Regions from separate parts of the Homo sapiens genome. Here all the other regions are linked to region 1. The links come from fine-mapping of genetic effects on gene expression. A gene starts in region 1. Each other region holds a variant in brackets. All regions are shown on one strand. Distances are from middle to middle.

Evidence for each region.
Region 2: its variant is fine-mapped to the expression of CEP19 in whole blood (TOPMed, PIP above 0.99).
Region 3: its variant is fine-mapped to the expression of CEP19 in neutrophils (Naranbhai 2015, PIP 0.91).

Annotation. Positions count from the first base shown.
Region 1 is chr3:196,708,940-196,717,121 of GRCh38, reverse strand. It overlaps CEP19 (centrosomal protein 19), which reads left to right and starts at 4,872. Exons shown (of 3, transcript NM_032898.5): 1 at 4,872-5,193. It overlaps PIGX (phosphatidylinositol glycan anchor biosynthesis class X), which reads right to left and starts at 4,745. Exons shown (of 6, transcript NM_017861.4): 1 at 4,478-4,745; 2 at 201-264. The coding sequence starts at 4,589. It also overlaps the pseudogene RNU6-646P. RefSeq lists silencers at 4,346-4,975, 4,810-5,122.
Region 2 is chr3:196,684,348-196,692,529 of GRCh38, reverse strand. No RefSeq gene overlaps it. Among named protein-coding and RNA genes, the nearest start is that of CEP19, 24 kb to the left of the region's middle. The variant C/G (reference allele first, on the strand shown) is at 4,046.
Region 3 is chr3:196,732,837-196,741,018 of GRCh38, reverse strand. It overlaps PIGX (phosphatidylinositol glycan anchor biosynthesis class X), which reads right to left. Exons shown (of 6, transcript NM_017861.4): 6 at 5,012-7,260. The coding sequence ends at 7,117. PAK2 (p21 (RAC1) activated kinase 2) reads right to left here and starts at 1,162. Exons shown (of 15, transcript NM_002577.4): 1 at 862-1,162. RefSeq lists a silencer at 582-1,371. The variant AG/G (reference allele first, on the strand shown) is at 4,571.

The sequences.
Region 1 (8,182 bases):
TCACTATGTTGGCCAGGCTGGTATCAAACTCCTGACCTTGTGATCCGCCTGCCTCGGCCTCCCAAAGTGTTGGGATTACAGATGAGAGCCACCGCATCTGGCCTGATTTTTCAATTTATACAAATTTCAACCATCAATTTTTTGCTCTCAATTATATGACACATTATTTTAATAGAAATAGAAATCAACAGGCAACTTACCTGTGGAAACCATCTTTCAAAACTTCTTGCCTCAAAATAATTTCAGAACACATGGCCCTTATGCCTATAAGAACCAAACGATTTTTTTTTAAAAACAAAAGCACTGAATAAAATAATATTTAAATAATTATAAAAGAGTTATTTTAGTAGGCTTTACTTGCCTAGAAAATCTAACCAACCTAAAAACAAAACCTTTTAAAATTTAAGCAATTTGAAATATATATATAAATCTACTTCCAATATAGCACTGTGGTTAAGAACAGTGACTCTGGAGTTAGATTGCCTGATTTCAAATCCCAGTCTGTAACTTAACAGCTGTGTTAACTTTGGGCAAGATAGTTTATCTCTCTACTAGCTGTCGTAAGAATTTAATGTAAGTAGAAGCACTTAGAACAGTAGTAAGAATACATATTAAGTGTTCTATGTAAGTGTTTTTTATTAATATTACTTTATTCAGGTGATCCCAAGATACCAAAAAGGAACAGGATGGCTAAAGAGCCAGGAAATCTCCATTTTAATCCTTGTTCACTGAAACTGTGTATCAGATAGATACATACTGGCAACTTCTATATTCTAACATCCATGCCTACAAAACCAGGAAAATGGTACATTTATGCCTTGTGGAGATGCTGGAAGGTTTAAAAAAAAAACAAAAAGCAAAGCTGGAGGCACGTAAAGGTTCAACGGGTTCCACTGTAAACTTAGAATAAGCACAAATCTCAGTATACTGACTTCATCCAGATTCCAGACACTCAAGCTGTTACTCTGAGCCAGGTGTGCCAGCTCGCACTTGAGGTGGGAGGATTGCTTGAACCCAGGGGATGGGGGCTTCAGTGAGCTATGATTATACCACTGCACTCAAGCCTGGGTGACAGAGAGAGACCTTGTCTCTAAACACAAAAAAAGAAAACTATTACTCAATGTAAGCATCTTAAAACTGAAAATTCAGTTACTATTGACCAGCAACTCTGCCAGGCATTTGCTATGGAACTTTGTCCCATTTCAAAAGCTGTAAATCTGTGGGAAGAACATTTAAAAAACACACACAAGCCTGGACAACATAGCAAGACTCCATCTCCATTAAGAAAAATACAAAAATTAGCTACTTAGGAGGCTGAGGTGGGAGCATGGCTTGAGGCCAGGAGGCAGAGGGAGGCTGCAGTGAGCAGAGACTGCACCACTGCACTCCAGCCTGGGTGACAAAGCCAGACCTTGTCTCAAAACAAACAAACAAACCCCAAACACATACAGAAAACTATATATTATTTACATAATCCTGTTATTATCATTGAATATTGCTGAATCCATTAGATGTATTTCTGAAAAGATGCATTAAGAAAAATGATGTGAAGGTGAAACTATTTGAAGGAATGAAAAAAGAATAGAAAAAAATAACTGGTTAAATAATATCTAACATGCTAGATCCTCTACTTGGTGCTTTCATATGTGTTTTAACTTTCACGATCTATAGCAAAATAAGCAAAATCACTGCCATTTGTTTGCAGGAGGAAACTTGAACTTCTAAAGCATTAGTAAATGGCCCTGGGTCATACAACTAACTACGTGACCGATTAGAAGAAAGGTTTGCCTGATTTTTAAAGCCTAAGATACTTCCACTTTCAACACTAAAATTGAATGAAATTTTAGTGTTACAGCTCTTCGAGAATTTGTCTAGTTACATTTCACTGAAAAATCTCCAGCCCTCAAAAAAGAAATTGTATTTGCTTTGGAGAAGCATATGATCTTTTCCTGAATAAACAAATCCCCAAATTCCATATGTATCTTGTACCAATCCAGATTTTTATTTGTTCTTTTTTTATTTTTATTTATTTATTTATTTATTTTTTGAGACGGAGTCTCACTCTGTTGCCAGGCTGCACTGCAGTTGCACGATCTTGGCTCACTGCAACCTCTGCCTCCCAGGTTCAAGCAATTCTCCTGCCTCAGCCTCCAGAGTAGCTGGGACTACAGGCACGCGCCACTACGCCCGGCTAATTCTTGTATTTTTAGTAGAGATGGAGTTTCACCACGTTGGCCAGGCTGGTCTCGATCTCCTGACCTGGTGATCTGCCCACCCTGGCCTTCCAAAATGCTGGGATTACAGGCATGGGCCACAGCGCCCAGCCGAGCAAGGCTCTGCCTCTTAAAAAAAAGAACAAATAGCCTGGGTGCAGTGACTCATGCCTGTAATCCCAGCACTTTGGGAGGGGGAGGCAGGCAGATCACAAGGTCAACAGTTTAAGACCAACCTGGCCAACATGGTGAAACCCCGTCTTTACTAAAATACAAAAAATTAGCCGGGCGTCGTGGTGTGCACCTGTAGTTCCCGCTACTTGGGAGGCTGAGGCAGGAGAATCGCTTGAACCTGGGAGGTGAAGGTTGCAATAAGCCGAGATTGCGCCACTGCACTAGCCTGGCAAGAGAGCAAGACTCCGTCTCAAAAAAAAAAAAAAAAAAAGAGACAGGGCCTTACTCTGTCACACAAGCTGGAATGCAGTGGCATGATCACAGCTCACTGCAGCCTTGAACTTCTGAGCTCAAGCAATCCTCCCACATCGGCCTCCCAAGTAGCTAGGATTATAGGCCCACGCCACCACACCTGGCTACTTTTAAATTTTTTTGCAGAGACAGGGTCTTGCTATGTTTTCCAGGCTGGTCTTGAACTCTTGGCCTCAAGCAATCCTTCCACCTCAGCCTCCCAATGTGTTAGAATTTCAGGTGTGAGCCACTGTGCCCAGCACAAATCCAGATCTTTCTTCATCCTGTTTAATTTTAATGGGGGTAGGGTGGGAAGTGAGGACTGCTATCCAACTATAAATTAAATTAGAAGAAAAATTATGAACAGGCTTAAATTCTACTGGTATGTACACCAGACAGCAGTTGATCATTGGGACCGGAGAAAGGCTAATTTACAAATAGTACAGCAAATACTAGAATGTCATGATTTTAAAGGCAAAAGTACCATTTTTAAAACGAATTTGTTGAATGTGAATTTACCTTCAACATTTTTCCTCTTAACTATTACTTTGGTAGTGGTGAACTGGCTCTGGAAATTGACTTCTTTTTCCTTTTTTTTTTTTTTTTTGAGACAGAGTCTCCCTCTGTCACCCAGGCTGGAGTGCAATGGCGCGATCTCGGCTCACTGCAACCTCCGCCTCCCTAGTTCAAGCGATTCTCCTGCCTTAGCCCCCTGAGTAGCTGGGACTACAGGGGCACGCCATCACGCCCCGCTAATTTTGACCCCTTTTCAATTATAAAATGCTAACGTTGGAAGCCTCTACAGATTACCAAATCCAACTGTTTAAAAATTCTTCTGGCCGAGCATGGTAGTTCACACCTGTAATCCTGGCACTTTGGGAGGCTGAGGAGGGTGGACCACCTGAGGTCAGGAGTTCAAGACCAGCTTGACCAATACGGCGAAACCCCGTCTCTACTAAAAATACAAAAAATTAGCTGGGCATGGTGGCGGGCACCTGTAATAATCCCAGCTACTTGGGAGGCTGAAGCAGAAGAATTGCTTGAACTTGGGAAAGGCGGAGGTTGCAGTGAGCCGAGATCGCGCCATTGCACTCCAGCCTGGCAACAGAGTGAGACTCCATCTCAAAAAAAAAATCTTCTTGGCCTCATAATCCTTTGTTTAGATAAACTTGAAAACCCAATATGTAAACACACAAGCAGAACTGCACTGATTGACAGATACTAAACGGATCTAAATGATACCAAGGATGACAGAAACATCCTCATTTTACAGATGGAGAAACTTGTAGGGTTTGTGCTTTCCTCCCATCAAACCTTACCCTTTATTGTAATTATTCCCGCACTTGCCCGTCTCAGTAGTACAAGCAGTTTGCCAACTACTACTTGCACGAACAACTAGCAGTTTGCCACGGAGTCCTACATTCAGTTTGGGGATTCTCAGGCCTCACAGGGCGCTAAGGCCTTGCCTGGCCCCTTGGTGATCAGAAGCTTCGTGCAGCTCAAGAGCATCCCAAGACGCTTGACGGCTGACTTTCCTTCTCAGAACTTTAGTAACAGGGCGGCCAGTCCAGCCTGGGAACCGCAGGGCCCGAGCCCGACTCTCCCGGAGACCCGGGATCCGCCGCAGAGCAAAGCGCACGGGAGGGAAGGAGGGCACACGGCTCTAGTGTCTGACCTCCTCCGGCTCGCCCTACTGATCTAGGTCCCGCGCCGGGTCCCCACATCCCCGCAACCCGCCGAGAGGCCCGGGAGCCGGGACCGCTCCCACGCTCTGGCCCCCCAAGCCCCGCCCCCCTTACCGGCGTCAGAGCGCGCGGCGGTGAAGGCCGCGGCGGGCCCGCGCGTGAGCCCGGTCGCCGCCCCGAGGAGCAGCCAGGCGGCCGCCCGAACCGCCGCCACCCGAGCCGCCAGGACGCCGGAAGCCGGACGCCCGAGAGGGGCGCGCGGGGCCAGGTGCGGACGCAGGAAGGGGCCTGGCCGCCCGCAGCTCCTACCGCGCGCTGCCCCAGATTTATCGGCTGGGACCGAGTGCTGGGTGCGCGCGCCTAGCGCCCGCGGTTCCCAGCTGCCTGCAGCCCCGGCCCCCAAGGGTTCCCGCGCGGCGTGGGGCGGTCGTCCCCGCCCAGCTGTTCCTTGCTCCGCCCACCCGGGGGCGGGCGAGGAGCTGCGCACGCGCGGGGACGCGCGCCCGGCCTGTCGCTGTGGAAACCGCTAGGCCAGCGCTCGCCGGGACCTGGAATCCCTGTACGCCGAGGTGGGAGCCGGTGGACCGGTCCCCCAGCCGGCCCCCACCTCCGCTTCCCGGTGTTTGAGGGTTCGGGCCTCCCGCCGGGGAGTTCACCCCTCGGGCTCGTCAGTAGGGCTGTGGCTGTCGCCTCTTCCTGCAGCGCCAGGCTCCGCCCGGTCTCACAGTCGGCTTAGGGGCTTTGCGTGCACTGCGGTTGGGTGGAAAAACCCACTCCTGGTTGTTTAGACGTTGGCCTGCAGACGATGTCATTTCTGTATTCCTCTAAGGGTAAGAAAGCCAGCCTTGCACTAGTGGAGACGTGAGTAGGGAGAGAATCGTCTACTCTTTGGGGACATTCGTACCCTTAGGTGCTGTGGGGCTTCCTAACAAGATTGTGGGCAGTTACTGATCTCTGGGGAGAGGAGTATTCGTGTCCAGGAAGAATAATTGGATAAACGTGCCGTCCTTCTTCCTAAACAGAGTGGAATCTGTAAGCAGGCCAAGAGAGCATCCAGGCGGCTTGGAGTGGAATAGAGGGCTCTAGAGCGGGTGTCTCAAAGAGGAAACAGAGTGTATGTCAAAACATACTATCCAAAACTGAAAATAGCCGGGCAGGTGGCTCACGCCTATAGCCCCAGCACTTTGGGCGAATCACCTGAGGTCAGGAGTTCGAGACCAGCCTGGCCAAGATGGCGAAACCCCGTCTCTACTGAAAATACAAAGATTAGCTGGGCATGGTGGTAGGCACCTGTAATTCCAGCTACTCGGGAGGCTGAGGCACGAGAATCGCTTGAACCCAGGAGGCGGAGGTTGCAGCGAGGGGAGATCACGCCACTGCACTGCAGCCTAGGCGACAGAGGGAGACTCTGTTTCAAAAGAAAAAAAAAAACTGAAAATGGTAGTATAAGCATGTTTCTTAAGAAATGGAGAGAGAAATTTTGGAAGATATGCCTTTTAAAATTCAGTCTGGCTCCCTATGAAGAGGAGTAGGGCCAAGGACGATAGTTTGTTGTTATAAGCCTCATAGAATTATTTTATATTCCAAATACAAACATTACTTTAGCAAAAATTAAAGTTAAATTTTAAAAAGAGTCTAGTAAAAAAAAAACTACATTATTTGAGTACCAACTGCATACATCTTTGACGAGTACAGCCATTGCTTCAGTGTGTGGAGTTTATATGTGCCCCGTAGGTTGTAGTTTACTAACATCAAATTTTAGTTAGGTGAATTGGGAATAGTATTCGTTAAAAAAAAAAAAAAAGCAAGAAAAGAGAAGGAAAAGAAGGAGAAATGGTGTGAGCTCATTGCATCAGATTAGAGGTAGAGCACAGTAATTTTTTAAAGTAGTTTTTTTTTTTTTTTTTTTTTTTTTTAAGAATAGGCGTATCATGCTTTGGAGAGGCTGTTGTGCAGTGGCACCATCTCAACTCACTGCAGCCCCAAACTCCTGGGTTCAGGCGATTCTCCCACCTTGGCCTTTGGTGTGGCTGGGACTACAGGTGCATGCTGCCATGCCTGGCCAATTTTTAAATTTTTTGTAGAGACATGCATGGTCTCGCTGTGTTGCCCAGGCTGGTCTCAAACTCCTGGCCTCAAGGTATCTCCTCTCCTTGGCCTCCCAAAGTGTTGGGATTACAGGCCTGAGCCACCACACCTGCCTCCATCTTTTTGAGATGGAGTCTTGCTCTTGTCACCCATGCTGGAGTGCAGTGGTACCATCTCAGCTCACTGCAACCTCCGCCTCCCAGGTTCAAGTGATTCTCCTGCCTTGGCCTCTCGAGTAGCTGGGATTACAGGCACCTGCCACTATGTCCAGCTAATTTTTGTATTTTTAGTACAGACGTGGTTTTCACCATGTTGGCCAGGCTGGTCTCGAACTCCTGACCTCAAATGATCTGCCCACCTTGACCTCCCAAAGTGCTGGCTGGGGTGAGCCACTGTGCCTGGGCTTATATGTGATTAATTTTCTAAGAGTAAAAATTCTCATGCCCAACAATAAGTGGTGAATAATATGATTATAGTACATCCATAAAATAAAACATTTAGCAGTCATATAAAATGTTACATTGTAGTAAAACATTTGATGACAAAATAATAATATATGTTGTTAAATTTGAACGTCAGGAAATAGCTTGTATGATAAGGTATGTATGAAACATACTATAAACTATATGCCTAGAAAAAAGACTGGACACAATCAAGGGTGATTATTTTCTATAGGTTTCCCCTCTCCTTTGCCCCCAGTATTCTACAATGACGTGTATAATCACTGCTAAGTATTTAATAAAAAGTATGTTCCTAATAGTGATTCTCCAGCAGAACTGAGTTCACGAAGATATCATCACCCTATGCCACTTTACCTCAATGTTTCTTGACATTTACAAATCTTTCTGGGAATGTCACAGTCACATCAAAAGCAGTGCTTAGGGTTAAGTGTATTCTTTGGGCACTGAGGGTGGGGAAAGGAAGAGAGAATAGTAAGTATTCATCTACAAATAGCTGTTTCTTGTAGCTAGAAAATTATCATATAGTGAGACACACAGGCCAAAATAAAAGCCCTGCAGACATTACTGACTATTGTATATGAAGAAGCTGAGATATGTGATGTATATGATGTAGCTGCAGACGTTACTGACGTGTATATGAAGAAGCTGATTCTGCAGCAGGTCTGCTTTTTGATCAGGCTTCTAGACTGTAAATGCTTTCAAAAATGTACAGGGACCATCATGTTAATTCATAGCATTAAACAATGTATGGAATGCCCACTACGTTCCAGGTATTATGCTGAGATATTGTGGTGGAAAATGAATATGCCCCCCACCCTCATGGAGCATATTGACTAGAAGGGAAGATAGATGATTAAATAAATAATGACAAAAAACTCTAGTAAAATAATTGGGAAAGTACAAAGGAGACAGTTCTGGATTGGTGAACCTCTCAGGACAAAATGATTAAGGTTAAAAAACTTACCTTATCATAGTACCTTGATACCGAGGATGCTCGATATGCCCTTTCTTAATTGATAAATAGTAAAGACCCTATAGGTCAGCTATTGGGCTGACTTAGGGGTTCATATTCGATCTTCAGTAAGAGTGCAGTACACTAAGAGGTTCAAACTGGATTGCATCCCCAGATTCACATATGAACAAGTCTATATCCTTGAAAAAACCAGATCTTAGGGATCCAACAGGTTGAAACTAACCCAGGGCCAAGCTGAACTTTCAGGGCAGTTCTCAAAATAACTGAGCTTTGTGGTCGTTCCCGCGCACATACCCC
Region 2 (8,182 bases), 25 kb after region 1:
CCATCTCAAAAAAAAAAAAAGAAAAGGAAAAGATCTGTATTTTATAATATTTTGAGTGACTGGACTAACACCTACAGGACAAGATATTATGGAGACACAAGTAAAGTCCATGACTTGCATTAAGAAATGCCAACTGCAAGAGCACAGGACAGGAAACAGTTAACCTAAAAACAACGTGAAACAGACAGAGGGCATCCAATTGGCAGCAGTCGCAGTATGAACACTCTGTGGACTGGCTGCCCAGAAAGCTAATGTAAGCCTACGCTACATTAATTGAGGGTTAGTGCTCAGATGGGGGAAAGGTCCTGATCAGATCCTGTCTGGAGCCATGTTTTCTTCCAGGAGCCTCATTTTAAAAGATGTTGACAAACTGGAGTGTGTCCCACAGAGAGTGACCATGTCACATGAGAATCCTTTGCAAGAAGTGATGAGATTTTTGCCTGGAAAAGGCAAAAGTTAAAAGATTGCTCTTAAAGCTCTTTAGTTCTTTACAGATCTTTCACGTAGAAGAATATATTACTACTTCTAGAGGGAAAAACTAGGCACAGTGATTGGAAATTTAGGGAGCAGCTCTCACCTCAAGAAAAGACAGAACTTTCTGGCCAGGCGCGGTGGCTCACGCCTGTAATCTCAGCACTTTGGGAGGCCAAGGAGGGTGGATCACTTGAGGTCAGGAGTTCGAGACTAGCCTGGCCAACATGGTGAAACCCCGTCTCTACTAAAAATCCAAAAATTAGCTGGGCGTGGTTGTGTGCACCTGTAATTCCAGTTACTCGGGAGGCTGAGGCAGGAGAATCACTTGAACCCAGGAGACAGAGGTTGCAGCAAGCCCAGATCACGCCATTGCACACTCTAGCCTGGGGGAAAAGCATAAAACTCCGCCTCAGAAAAAAAAAAAAAAAGAAGAAGAAGAAAAAAGAAAAGACAGAACTCTCTGAAGATCAAAACCGCCAGCAACGGGAAGGGTGACTTTGTGAAGCAGTGACCCCGCTGTCCCTACAGCAGCCCAGCAAGGCACCAGAGAGGTTAACCATTGGCGTTTTTCAAGCTGCCTTCTGTGGAGCAGCATCCTGGGGAGCTAGGGTTGGGGTCGGGTGTAAAAGTGGTCATTGTTCTGAGTGATAAAAAGAATAAGGAGGTGGGAACTGGACTCCTAATTTATCCACAGCAGCTCAATTCTTACATGTTGAAGTTTTTCCCATTTCAGAGTTCTACTTGAGATCTTCATTAAGGGTTCTGCTATGAAAATCAAACCTGCAAACCACCAGAGATGATGGCTTTCTTCGCTATCTCTTTTCTTTTTTGAGATGGAGTCTCGCTCTGTCACCCAGGCTGGAGTGCAATGGCGTGATCTTGGCTTACTGCATCCTCTGCCTCCCGGGTTCAAGCGATTCTCCTGCCTCAGCCTCCCGAGTAGCTGGGATTACAGGTGTGCGCCACCAAGTCTGGCTAATTTTTGTATTTTTAGAAGAGACAGAGTCTCACCACCTTGGCCAGGCTGGTCTTGAACTCCTGACCTCAGGTGATCTGCCCACCTCGGCCTCCCGAAGTGCTGGGATTACAGGTGTGAGCCACCGTGCCCGGCCTCTCCACCGTCTCTGGTGGACACAACACCCCGTCTCTTAGGTGCCTGATTCTCAGACAGGACTCAGGAGCAGAGACCAGATAAATCTCAGATTTGTCTGAGCTTATTTACTTCTGGAGTTTTCTAAATAGCTCTCTCTCTTCCCTGGGGTGGGTTGCTTTTTTTTTTTTTAAGGCAGTTTTTTCAATCTTTTGGGTAGTAGCTCTTGAGTCTGTAAAGCCTGGTAATTTTCTAGAGGTAATTGGCATTAACCATCAAGACTCTCCTCACATGCTCCCTTCCCACTCTGGCACCCTCCTCCCACAGGCCTTCCTCCCGTCCTGCTGCCTCCATCAGTCTCTTCCTCTGGCAGCCAAGGGTTGCCTCTCCAAGTGGTCCCAGGAGAGAAATCCTAGGGCCACGTATCAGTCAGAACACTAGTCCTGGACACCTGTGTTTCTCCTGCCCGCAGGCAGACCCTTCGGGAGACACTTGACCAGCGCAGGCCCTTGGGGGGCAGCTCGCCAGGTAGGACCCCTCCCTGCCAGCTGGGGTTTCCCAGCTCCCCACGCTTGAGTTCTCCTACCTAGAATCTTCTTAGGACTACTTTTAACAGCTGCAGTCCTCTCTGCTTGCTTTACGCCTCCCGAGACTCGTTGTTGCAAAAGTCTTTCTGTGCTAGAGACCCAAACTTTGAATCTCTACTCAAGCTAGTGGTTCTTAGACTTCAGCATGCACCAGACTCATCTGTGGGACTCACGATAGCGCAGATTGCTGCGTTCCACCCCCAGAATTTCTGATTCAGTAAGTCTGGGGTGGAGCCTAAGAATTTGCATTTATTTTCCTTTTTCTTTTTTTAATTTGTTTGAGATAGAGTCTCGCTCTTGTCACCCAGCCTGGAGTGCAGTGGCGCAATCTCAGCTCACTGCAACTCCCACCTCCCAGGTTTAAGCAATTATCCTGTCTCAGCCTCCTGAGTAGCTGGGATTACAGACGTGTGCCACCACGCCTGGCTAATTTTTATATTTTTAGTAGGGACAGGGTTTTGCCGTGTTGGCCAGGCTGGTCTTGAACTCCTGACCTCAGGTGATCCGCCTGCCTTGGCCTCCCAAAGTGCTGGGATTACAGGTGTGAGCCACTGCGCCTGGCCAAGAAATTGCATTTCTAACAAGCCCCCAGACCACACTTTGAGAAGCGCTGTGCGAGGCTTTTGCTTTCCTTCACTGTTGCTGTGGGTATTGGTGTTCCAACCCACAATTCCCTTTTGCTCATACTAGCTTCAGTATATTCCAGTGTCTCTCTGCTTATAGGCTTTTTGTAATAATCTTATTTCTATGGAATTCTGATATACTATGGCCTTTTTTTTTTTTTTTTTGAGACGGAGTCTTGCTCTGTCGCCCAGGCTGGAGTGCAGTGGCACGATCTCTGCTCACTGCAAGCCCCGCCTCCCAGGTTCACGCCATTCTCCTGCCTCAGCCTCCCGAGTAGCTGGGACTACAGGCGCCCGCCACCACGCCCGGCTAATTTCTTGTATTTTTAGTAGAGACGGGGTTTCACCATGTTAGCCAGGATGGTCTCGATCTCCTGACCTCGTGATCCGCCCGCCTTGGCCTCCCAATATACTGTGGCCTTCTATTTTAACTATCCTACGACCACTGGCTCTGTGGGCCAGGGTTTCACCCTCACACAGGTGCTATGCACTTAGAAGGCATTCTTTTTTTTTTTTTTTTTTTTTTTTTCAGATGGAGTTTCGCTCTTGTTGCCCAGGCTGGAGTGCAGTGGCGCCATCTCAGCTCACCACAACCTCCGCCTCCGCCTCCCGGGTTCAAGTGATTCTCCTGCCTCAGCCTCCTGAGTAGCTAGGATTATAGGCACACACCACCACACCCAGCTAATTTTGTATTTTAGTAGAGACAGGGTTTCTCCATGTTGGTCAGGCTGGTCTCGAACTCCCGACCTCAGGTGATCTGCCCGCCTCGGCCTCCCAAAGTGCTGGGATTACAGGCATGAGCCACCGTGCCTGGCCTAGAAGGCATTCTTGCTGAAGAAATTCGGCGGAGGGAAGGATTCATGCAGGCTGGAGCAACAGGGAAAGCTTCACAAAAGGAGTTGGAGTTGAGTGTGTCCTCAAAGGGAGATTTGTCTGTGTAGAAGGGAGAGGAACGAGCATTCCTGACAATGGCTCCTGGACATAGGAGCATTTGTTGGGATGACACGGAGGAACAGACTCTCACTGGAACACACATCTCTTCAATGAGGTGGTGAAATACATCATGGGAAGGAGCCTGTCTGTACCAGAACTCTTACAACCTATTAAGTGCAATTAGCCTCGCTGTAGCCAAAGGGATGTTGATTTTGCTCAGCAGATTGTTATTCAGGATCCCCAGGGACAGTGGTGCTGTGTGGGCAAAGCAGCGTGGGCAGCAGCAGCGTGGGAATGGGTGTGTTCACTCCCGAAGCCCAGGACAGATAACTCCACTT[C/G]TTGTTTCTGTAGAAAGAAGTGTGGCAAGAGCTGACCCGAGGAAGAAGCTTTGCTCAATAGGAAATGAGCTATGATGATGAAATGAGGAAGCCCTGCTGGGCTTCAGCTTGATGGTTCTGAATTATAAAGAGAAAAGAATGTGCAAAAAGCGAATATGATCGTGGAAAACTGGAAACACTCCAAATATCGAAAACTGGAAACACTCCAAATATCCATCAATAAGACATTGGTTAAGTGAATTGCGCAGTGTCCATGCTGCGGCATACTATGAAACCCTTAGGCAGAAGAAGGTAGCACTGGGCATAGTGACCTGGAAATAACTCCTAGCTACATGGTTAAGTGAGGAAAACAAGTTGCCAAATAGTATATTATAATTCTTTGATTTAAAAAATATATCAGTAAAAACTCTTGAATGAGGCCAGGTGCAGTGGCTCACACCTGTGATCCCAGGACTTTGGGAGGCCGAGGCGGGCGGATCACCTGAGGGCAGGAGTTTGAGACCAGCCTAACCAACATGTAGAAACCCCATCTCTACTAAAAATACAAAATTTAGCCGGGCGTGGTGGCGCATGCCTTTAATCCCAGCTACTCGGGAGGCTGAGGCAGGAGAATCGCTTGAGCCTGGGAGGCAGAGGTTGCAGTGAGCCGAGATCACACCATTGCACTCCAGCCTGGGCAACAAGAGCAAAACTCAGTCTCAAAACAAAAACAAAAACAAAACAAAACTCTTGAATGATGTGTGCAAAGTGACTGTTAACAGTTTGCCTGTGGAAAGAGGAGTGGGGTTAAAGTGGGAGATAGAGAGCTTAAGTGACTTTTCATTTTTTATTTTTAAAATTAAATTTCTGAATGGTTTAAATTTTTTCAAACATGCAATTGAAATAAATTCCAGCTAATGTGTACTCAGTGCCAGACACTGCTCTAGGTGTTTTAGGCCTATTATTTAATCCTCCCAACAAACCTCTGGAGATAGGTATTATTAATCTCCCCCATTTTGCAAATTAGAAAACTGAGGGCCGGAGCAGTGAAGCAGCCTGTCCAAGGTCACACACTAATAAGTGGGAGAGTTGAAATTTGAACCCACGTCATGTGGCTCCAGCATCTATGGACTGACCCTCTCACTGCAAGGCCCTCGATGGACCATGTTGGTCCATGGGATGGTAACTGTAACTGTAATAAGATTCCAGTAAAAACCGCACAAAAACTATGTGCATAGAAAAAGCAATGGGAGTCTCTATAGTTGTCCCTTTAAAACATGGATCCAAAGATTCACTCTGAATTCCAGCTCAGACAGGCTAATTCAGGCATGAAATATAGTGATTTCAGAACACAAGGAAAGCCTCACTTCTCCCTCCTACCCCAAACTGTTGGTTAACATTTCTTGAACAAGGACTAACTTTTTACCACCCAAATAGCGATCAAGCTTAATATGTGAATATTTCTGGACAAGGCGTAACTATCTCAAATTTAATTGTGTATATCTCTGATTTAATATTATCAAGGTGTAAATAGCAATCACATACAAAAAGCAGGTTGTGATAAGAGATGGGGAAAAGGCAGGAAGGAGGGACTCAGAGCATGATAGGGTACATATGGGGAAGGCAGACGGCAGCAGACTATCATATACTAGTTATCAATGATACTTCTTTACAGTGATAGAAGCCTTCCCTTTCCTAAGAACTTCCTATGTATTTACACATTTGATCTTGACAACTTATGAACTAGAGAAGACAGATTTCTTCATTTTATTGATAGGGAAAACCAGGCTCCAGGAGGCTGTGACTTGGTAAATTACCAAGTTGGAACCGGAACCCAAAACTCCTGATTCTCCCTCGAGGATTCTTGAATTACACCCAGACACTTCAGCCACATCACAACTTCACCCAGCATTAGGTCTGAGTCAGCATCAGTGTAAGAAAATGTAGCAGACAAAAGCTCCAGAGGTTAAAGGGAGCAATAGGACCCTGGCCAGGACCCACTAAAGGACATCCAGGTGGAAGGACAGAGGAAGAGCCCAGGTCAACATAGGGGATGCCAAGGTCACAGGCTGGGGGAATGGCCCCAGTGCTGACACCAAGCAGCTAGGAAACAGGGCAGAAGTTTTGATTGTGGCATCTATATGCCAGGACTTTGCTCCCACCACTTCTCCCATGCTGCCCCCATTTCTAGAATCTTCCTCCTATTTCTTTCCCTTCATTCTTTGCTTTCCTCTCCCACTCTAGCTCCAAACTCGCATTTGCAGTTGTATAAAGGGGGGAAATACATGAATTTTTAGAAATAAAATTTGTCTTACCAATGGGATTGGAATTGTAATCCCATTCTCTTAAACTCATTTTAAACCCCTACTAAATCTTTGAACCTTTTCTACTTTATCACATGGTTAGAATGGGTGAAGTTCCATTACTCAATTCTTTCATCACTTAATTAAATCCAATTAATCTATTGACTGCTTTGCTCAATCTTTTTTTTTTTTTTTTCCAGACAGAGTCTTGATCTGTCGTCCAGGCTGGAGTGCAGTGGCACAATCTCGGCTCACTGCAACCTCTGCCTCCCGGGTTCAAGCGATTCTCCTGCCTCAGCCTCCCGAGTAGCTGGGATTACAGGCATGTGCCACCACACCCGGCTAAATTTTTTGTACTTTTAATAGAGATGGGTTTCACCATGTTGGCCAGGCTGGTTTCTAACTCCTGACCTCAGGTGATCCGCCTGCCTCGGCCTCCCAAAGTGCTGGGATTACAGGCCTGAGCCACCGCGCCTGGCCAATCTGTTTAATCTTGAATTCTCTTCATATTCTTTCTATGACTAGTGCTACAGCGGTGCTGGATGTTTAAGTGATCTTCAGCTGAATTCCGCATCTCCCATGGCTTTGACTCTGTAGTCACCTCCCCTAAAAGTCATGCTGATGACCTGAAGACATGGACACGCTCCACAATCCATGCGATATAGAGGAGAAGGAAAATAAGAATGAAAACAAATACTAAACACTATCATTCCTCTAGGGTAGGGGTGTCCAATCTTTTTTCTCCCCACATTAAAAGAAGAATTGTCTTGGGCCATACATTAAAAAATACACTAACACTAATGATAGCTGATGAACTAAAAAAAAAAAAAGTCACAAAAAAAAGCTTATCAATTTGTGTTGGGCTGCATTCAAAGCCACCTGGGCCACATGCAGCCCGCGGGCAGCAGGTGGGACAAGCTTGCTCTAGGGTAAGTGGATGACTCCTGGAACTTCCTGCAATGTGTGGTTGGACCACTGATAGTCGTGGGCGGGAGAAAGCACTGAGGAGGCAAGACAATGAGCGATTCGAACGCGGCTGTGCATGACAAGGAAGACACTGCGTGGTTTTTGTTTTACACTTTGCACATTTTATTTTTAGCCTCGCCACTGCCCACATGGTTCTAAAAATTACCACCAGGGGGCAGAAGGGTGCCAATGTCCATTGTCTCTGCTACGTTTGGGTTTTCCTTTCCGAATTTCCTCACAGAAGAATTTCTGATCCTATTATACAGATTAAGAAACCAAGGAGCAGAGTGAAGTAAGTGGTAGGCAATCCAGCATTTTGTGAGTGGCAGTGGCAGGAGTTAAACACTGGTTTGGGTAAATACAAGGACTAGGCACTTTCAGAGCTCACCTGAGTTTAAAAACATTTTACAATCCTCTTTGATTAAATGCAATACATTAAGAAAACTTCAAACAGGCCAGGCGCGGTGGCTCACGCCTGTGATCACAACACTTTGGAAGGCCGAGGCAGGCGGATCACCTGAGGTCAGGAGTTCGAGACCAACCTGGCCACCGTGGTGAAACCCCATCTCTACTAAAAATACAAAAATACGGGCATTGTGGTGAACACCTGTAATCCCAGCCACTCAGGAGGCTGAGGCAGGAGAATCGCTTGAACCCGGGAGATGGAGGTTGCAGTGAGCCGAGATCGCACCACTGCACTCCAGCCTGGGTGACAGAGCAAGACTCCGTCTCAAACAAAAACAAAACACTTCAAACAATGTTACTGTAACTCCTTCTATTTTCCTGTTTTGTGTTTCACTTATCACCAGTTTTTGTCACTCATAGTCTTTTCAGCTCTGTGTCCATTGTAAAAGAGGGGGACTTGCCCCTTTCGACTAATATCGACTTT
Region 3 (8,182 bases), 24 kb before region 1:
AATCACGCTCACACTGCCCAGGGAGAGTACTACTAAAATTAAGATACAAGGATGGGTACAACCTCACACCCACTGACGATGACACGCTTCTGTTCTTGGATGACTTATCTTTAAAGAATTAGTTAAAAGGTTGAGTGGCAACGTTTTGTGTTTGTGCGTGCGTGTGTTTCCAAGAGAGCCAAACATGGTGAAAAACCAATCTTAACTTCACCTAAGTTATCTAAAGAAGCAAATTTCACCCCTAGGCTGAAGCTCAAACAGGAGCGAGGAGAAGCTCCGAAAGATCAGTTCGTAAGCGGTGGCCCTCAAGCGCCCGGGACGCTCTACGTTTTTACCAATGTGGAATGTGGAAAAGAGGTTACAGGCTGGAGCTGAGAAAACAGTCAAGCTACTCGCGACAATATTCCTGAGCAGTGAAACGGGTGAACAGAGAGCGAGCAAGCAGGGGCTGAGAATCAGTGAGAGGAAAAATCAAGGAACAAAACCGGAGAGTCTGGTCCAGCATTAAGAAAACGGAGCAAAGGAAGAGGGTGAAACGCGAGGGGAGGGAAGACCGAGAGTCGGCAGAGACCGTGGTGCCGCGAGGTTCAGAGCAGGGCTGGGTCCAGGAAGAGTCAGACCTCCGCAGCCCAGCGAGCTTCCCATTTCTGGCTAAAGCCAGCGAAGAAAACGGCCCTGGGGAGCAGACAATGAGCCACCGCCCCAGGAGCTGCGGCTCCCAGCACGCAGGTGGCGGCTCCCCGGCCCCGCGCGGGGCAGGTCGGCCGTCCCGGGCCGCTCCCGCCCGCCAGGCCACGGAGAAGGAAGGAGGAGGAAGAGACCCGGCCTGCGTCCCGCGCCGGCCGGCCTGTGTGCACTTACCCCGGGCAAGGCAAGGTCCCCGCCCCAGCGAGGCGCCTCGGTCAGAGCTCCCGGCGGGCTGCGGAGCCGCCCCGGGCTAGCGCGCGGTGCGGGGAGGGGAGGGGAGGGAAGGGGAAGCGGGGCGGGAAGAGACGCCGCGCTGGAGCAGCCGCTGCTACCGCTAGGCCCAGCGGCGGCGGAGTCCTGCGCACGCCAGGGAGGGGAGGGGAGGGAGCCTTCGGCAATGGCGACGGCCCGGGCCGGAGGGGAAGCGGAACAACCGCCGCCGCTGCGCGTGGCCACAACCCTGGGGGAGGAAGACGGCGGGGAGCGGGGCGGGGCGGGGCCAGAACCCAGAACCCCTCCCGCCCCGAAGCCGGAGCTCCCCGGGGCGGAGACGAGCGCCACCTCCCATGGGCAGGCCCGCGCGGGGGCCGCTGGGAGTAGTAGTTCGGTGATAGACGTTGCTTTTATTCCTTGGGTAGTCTTTGTATTGAGAGGAGCAGCCAGTCCCTCATTTAATTCAGCATTGTCTCCAAGCAGGTCTCTGCCGACGGAAGACGCTGACAGACGATTGCTGTTATACACATCTGCTCCGCGACATTTGTTTCTGGGAATTCATCCGTTATCCATTTTGCTTTTTTGCTTACAAATTCTTAACTAAAATTTTGCTGCTAAATTAAGTATCACCTCCTTGCAAATTAAGACTTCCCTATTTTATCCACGGAGGAGTTCATCAATGTTTCACTTATTCTACAAATATTTGAGTGTCTGATATGGACTAGACACTGTTAAGCATCAGAAATACAAGGGTGGTTCAGGTGCGGTGGCTCACGCCTGTAATCCCAGCACTTTGGGAGGCTGAGGCAGGCGGATCACCTGAGGTCGGGAGTTCGAGACCAGCCTGGCCAACACGATGAAACCCCGTTTCTACTAAAAATACAAAAATTAGCTGGGCATGGTGGCACGCATCTGTAGTCCCAGCTACTCGGGAGACTAAGGCAGGAGAATCGCTTGAACCCAGGAGGAGGAGGCTGCAGTGAGCCAAGATCGGGCCACTGCACTTCAGCGTGACAGAGTCGTCATGCCTCAAAAACAAAACAAAAAACACAAAAGAAATGCAAGGGTGAACACGATTCACCAAGCCTTTGTGGAGCTTATATGAGGACGCAGTAATTAAAGTAGTCACACCTGGTATAAGAAAAAACTTGGCGAGGTTACTTTGGATAGGGTGGTCGGAGAAGGCCTCGTTAAGGAGGTGACACTTAAGGCAAGAACAGAAAGAGACAGCAATAAGAAGCACCCAGAGAAAAGCAATACAGGCAGGAGAAGAAAGAAAAGGGCTTGCTACGGTCAGTTAAGAAGGCCTGTGTAGCTGGGGCCTAGAACAAGAAGGCGGTACTATTAAGAAAACACTACAGCAGACAAGATTCAGGTCATGAAAGATCCTGAATGCCATGGTAAAAAGTCTATATTACAAAAAACCATTAAAAGGCTTTTTTAAGCAGGAAAGCGATGTTACCTGGCTTACACTTTAAGATCACTAGACTGCAATGTGGATAATGGAGTATAGAGATGCAAGAATAGAAGGGAAATAAAGTAGGAAGGCAGTGGAAAGAAAGAGGAATTGTGCTTCTCTATCAATGTAGAGCAAAAAACTCAATTGATGCAGTGGGTACAGGAGAGAAAGGAATCAAGGAGCAACATGGCACAGTAAGAGATAACCTGAAAAATGCTCTGATTATTAAACACACAGAAACACTGGATAAATAAGACATCCTTTCAAAGGCATAACTTGCAAGAATGAAAATAGAATGTTTCTGACAGTCTTCCAAATTTCACACTCAACCTGAAGAAGGGGCAGGACACCAGAGTGGTAAGCAGGGCAGTGAAGCCATGGTTGTGTTGAGGGCACCTACTTATCTCAGAAATCTCTAGAGTTTTAATAGGTGCACAGGAAACTAAAGACAAGGACTTGGGCCTATACAAGAAGTCAGGACTGTGATCCTGCATAGGACTGGAAATTCAAGGCGCTATACCCTCCAAGAACAGACTGGGGGGAAAAAAAACCCTATGCTAGCCCAGGGAGACACACAGGACATTTGTTTACTTTGGCCTGCAGTGGGCTTGCAGGGCAGAAGAAAATTTTCCCTTTAGAATTAATAACCCTTTAGAATTTTCCCTCACTAAGGTTTTAAAGTTCAAATTTGTCAAGAAAGTGGTCCCAGGCTGGAGTTCTGGGGGGCCTGGAAGAAACAAATACAAATCCTGACTGCACAGGTGTACCCTCAACCTCGGTCTCAAAGGATTTCACAGATAAACAGGATTTCCGAAGCCAAACATGAGCACCCGAAATACAATACACCTGAGGAAATAAGCAGCGATGAGTGAGTCAATAGAAACTACAAAGAACATAATGAAACCCACACAGACTTTAGCTGCTGGAATTGATGGCTACAGAATATACAGTACGCCTATTTAAATGATTAAAGAAAGTAAGACAGGAGCTAGAAAACACGAGCAAGAAACAAGATGCTTTTTTTTTTTAACGACCAAACAGCTTTGAAAATGAAATAAGTAGGCCAGGCGCGGTGGCTCACACCTGTAATCCCAGCAGTTTGGGAGGCCGAGGTGGGCAGATCACCCGAGGTCAGGAGTTCGAGACCAGCCTGGCCAACATGGTGAAACCCCAGTCTCTACTAAAAATGCAAAAATTAGCCAGGCGTGGTGGTGGGCACCTGTAGTCCCACCTACTCAGGAGGCTGAGGCAGGAGAATCACTTGAACCTGGGAGGTGGAGGTTGCAGTAAGCCAAGAACATGCCATTGCACTCCAGCCTGGGCAACAAGAGCAAAACTCCGTCTCAAAACAAAAACAACAACAACAAAAGAATTAAGTAGAATTTCTAGAAACAAAGAATAACTGAAACCAAAGCCAATGTTTGGTTAAATAGCAGATTACACACAATTGAAGAGAAAATTAGTAAACTGGAAGACAGACCAAAAGAAATTACTGAGAACAGCCTAGAGACAGGAAAAATGAAAGCAAGCTTAAGAGACATGGGGATAGATTGTTAAGGTCTCTACCATACTCCTAATGAGAATTCCAGGAGAGAAAAGAGAAAAACCAAGAGAGGCAGATAATGATGAGATAATGGCTGAAAAATTTCCAGAATTGATTAAAGACAGGAATCTTCAGATTCAGGAAGCAAACTGAATACCAAGCAGGATAAGTAAAGAAATTTCAAACACATGAAAATGAAACCGCAGAATACCAGAGATAAAGCAACCAGAGAGAAAAGACATTCTGTACAAACAACTATTACATTCATAGCAGATTTCACAACAGCAAAACGGGTGCCAGTCAATAATGGTATATTTTCAAAGTACCAAGAGAAAATAACCAAGCTTAGAAGTGTACAGCTACCGGCTGGGCACAGTGGCTCACACCTGTAATCCCAGCACTTTAGGAGGCTGAGGTGGGCAGATCACCTGAGATCAGGAGTTCAAGACCAGCCTGGCCAACAACGGCAAAACCCTGTCTCTGCTAAAAATATAAAAAATAGCAGGGTGTGGTGGTGTGCGCCTGTAGTCCCAGCTACTTGGTAGGCTGAGGCAGGAGAATCACTTGAACCCAGGAAGCAGAGGTTGCAGTGAGCAGGGATCACACCACTGCACTCCAGCCTGGACGACAGAGCAAGACTCTGTCTCAAAAAAAAAAAAAAAAAAAAA[AG/G]TGTACAACTACCTAAATTATCCATCAGATGAGTGAGGATGAAATAAATATATCATCAAACATAAACAAGCTACCAACAGAGACACACTAAAGGAACTCCTTAAAAGGTATATTTCTTTCTTTTTCTTTCCCTTTTTTTTTTTTTTTTGTGACGGAGTCTCACTCTGTCGCCCAGGCTGGGGTGCAGTGGTACGATCTCGGCTCACTGCAACCTCTGCCTCCCGGGTTCAAGTGATTCTCCTGCCTCGGCCTCCCGAGTAGCTGGGATTACAGCCGCATGCCACCACTCCCGGCTAATTTTTTGTATTTTTAGTAGAGATGGGGTTTCACCATGTTGGCCATGTTTACAAGATAATACAAACAAAACCAGAAATGTTCTGTTATACTAAAAGTGATGTCATCTGCAACCATTTATCTAAGCAAGAAGAGTTATATCAAAGTTTTCTTCATTCACATTTTTATTACACTTCTGAATATTTGTATAAGTGAGTAAATGGCTGAACCACATTCCAAGCCACAATCTTAAATATTTTAAATACTGATGAAACCTGGTTGTGATGAGCAAAAACAAAAACATTCTGTATACACATACCCCCACATACTCTTAAGATGTTAAACAGTACCGTGTTCCCTCCCCGTCTAACCATATTCCAAAACGTTGCCTGTCAATCTAACCATATCCCAAAACAATGCCTGAATTGTAGCTGACATATATAATTCCATTTCAGTGTCATATTATTAATCCCATAGTGAAAGAAATGTTTCTAAAACATGAAATTCTTTCTTACGAGAAAGCATGAAATAGGTATGAAACTATACTGGGTTGAAATTTTAGTCATTTTAAAGGTCACTGTTTCTGCTTTATGGCACTGGGTTACCTTTTCCAATATTTAAGTCTCAAATACACGTTTAAAAAGAACTGTTAGGACTAGTCAGGTCATACATGTCAAATTATACAAGATGTAGTCCCATGAAAACACCAAAATACTTTAGGAAATGGAGCAGTGATGGCATATACAAAGGTTTATCACATCTCAATACTCTACATAAAATAAATAATGCCAACACACCCTGGTTTGATGTCTTCTGTTTTGGAACATGCTTGCCCTAAGGTTTTATTTACTTTTTTTTTTTTTTTTTTTTTTTTTTTTTTGAGACAGAGTCTCACTCTGTCGCCCAGGCTGGAGTGCAGTGGCGTGATCTCGGCTCACTGCAAGCTCTGCCTTCCGGGTTCATGCCATTCTCCTGCCTCAGCCTCCCGAGTAGCTGGGACTACAGGTATGCACCACCATACCCGGCTCATTTTTTTGTATTTTTAGTAGAGATGGGGTTTCACCGTGTTAGCCAGGATGGTCTCAATCTCCTGACCTCGTGATCTGCCCGTCTCGGCCTCCCAAAGTGCTGGGATTATAGGCGTAAGCCACCGCGCCCGGCCAAGGTTTTATTTTTTAATTAGCCTATGGCACTTACTTTATTTTCTAATTTTTTTCCAATCATAACAGTAAATGAAGAACCTTTGTTTAAAAAAATTACCTGATGATTCCAATTATTGTTCATGTACAACTTTATTTAAAATGGCAATCTGAGTTGTCTTCCTGACATACTCTGTACCAAATCTTAGTACTCAGTTTCATCAAGTCCTTTGCCAATTCATATATTCAAAAGAAACATGATAAAATGTAAAAGGAGAATGGAGTGCGTTAAGGAATAATCAATAATTTAAGATTATCAATAATTTTGATATTAATATTAATTTCTTAGCTGTCCTACTTTAATGATTTTCATTGAAACTCTGGCACATCTTTAATAGTCTCATGACATTACTATTTAAATAAACATGATTTTCATCCAAATTATTTTATTCTTCTTTTTTGTTTTTCCTTTGGAGACAGGGTCTCGTTCTGTCGCCCAGGCTGTAGTGCAGTGGTGCGATCTTGGCTCTCTGGAACCTCCGCCTCCCAGGTTCAAGCGATCCTCCCGCCTCACCCTTCCAATTAGCTGGGACTACAGATGCCCACCACCAGCCCCAGCTAACTTTTGTATTTTTAGTAGAGACAGGGTTTCACCAAGCTGGTCTCAAACTCTTGACCTCTGGTGATCCGCCCACCTCGGCCTCCCAAAGTGCTGGGATTACAGGTGTGAGCCACTGTGCCTGGCCTATTTTATTCTTATTTATAACGGTTTTCTCAATTTGTAGCTTAAATTGAAAGTACTTGCAAAATGAGAATAATTTGTCTCTACTACATAAAGAAATAATTTTTCTACCCCAAATGAAGATAAAGTCACTTCTCACAAAATAAACATTAATTTAGCAGAATTAAGTTTCCCCTTATGGCATCTGATGCTTGAGGATTACCAAGGATCCATGCAATAGAGCACTACATTTTGGAATTAGCTGAGAATGATCCCAAATTTCCTCTAGTAAACATAATTTTGGCCACAAATGAAGACAAAAGATAAAAGTAATTAATTCTAGAAGAACACCTCTCGTCAGAAATTAATAGATCTTATTTAGGTTTCTAGGAAGCATTTAACTACATAAAACTTATAGGGAAAAATGGCCATATTTGAAAACTGCTACAAGGATCAATGTAGAGCACAGGATTGTAATGAGCAGAGTCACAGAACATACTAGAGAGGTATGTACAGTCAGTCCCACTGGAACTTGTAGAATCACATTCTTATATACCTATGGAGAGAGAGAGAGAAGTTAGACATTGAAAATGCATGTCATGGGCCCGGTGTGGTAGCTCATGCCTGTAATCCCAGCACTTCGGGAGGCCAAGGCGGGCAGATCGCTTGAGGTCAGGAGTTCAAAACCAGCCTGGCCAACATCTCTACTAAACCATCTCTACTAAAAATACAAAAATTAGCCAGGTGTGGTGGCAGGTGCCTGTAGTCCCAGCTACTAGGGAGGCTAAGACAGAACAATCACTTGAACCCGGGAGGCGGAGGTTTGCAGTGAGCTGAGATCGTGCCACTGTACTCCAGCCTGGGAGACAGAGGAAGACTCTGTCTCAAATAAATAAATAAATAAATAAAAATAGTAAAATAAAATAAATGTCATAAGGTGAGACCACTATTTCTTTGATTTTTAATTGGATATTTTTATTTCCTTTTTCTTTTAAATATATTTCAGCCAGTGCTACACTACATGTAATATTATTGGTTTGAATGACTTTTGAATCTAACATTTCATTTAATGTTACAGAATCAGACTCAATTCCCACAATAATTTGTTAAATCTCATTAGTTCTGATTTTTCTGCTTTTTACATAAAGTATATTATTTTAAGAAAAGCTATATCCCAGTGTCACCTCTGTAATCAATATAAACATTTACTTCCTCTTACCATGTTTCAAATTAGAATACAGAATTCTCTCTAAATTGAAGACTTAGAGGAAAAACATTAAAACAACAAAAAACTAAATTATTCTTTCATTCCCATTTGCCTTTCTCTCCCCAGATAGCTTTTAAAGCCTTGTTATTCCCATATTGTACAGCTGGATGTGGCCTTTACTATGACTAGCAATGGAAAAGCTCCTACATTCAACTCAGTTTCTATTTTCTATTTGGTTTTGAAGATAAAGTTCAATGAAAAACACTGGGAA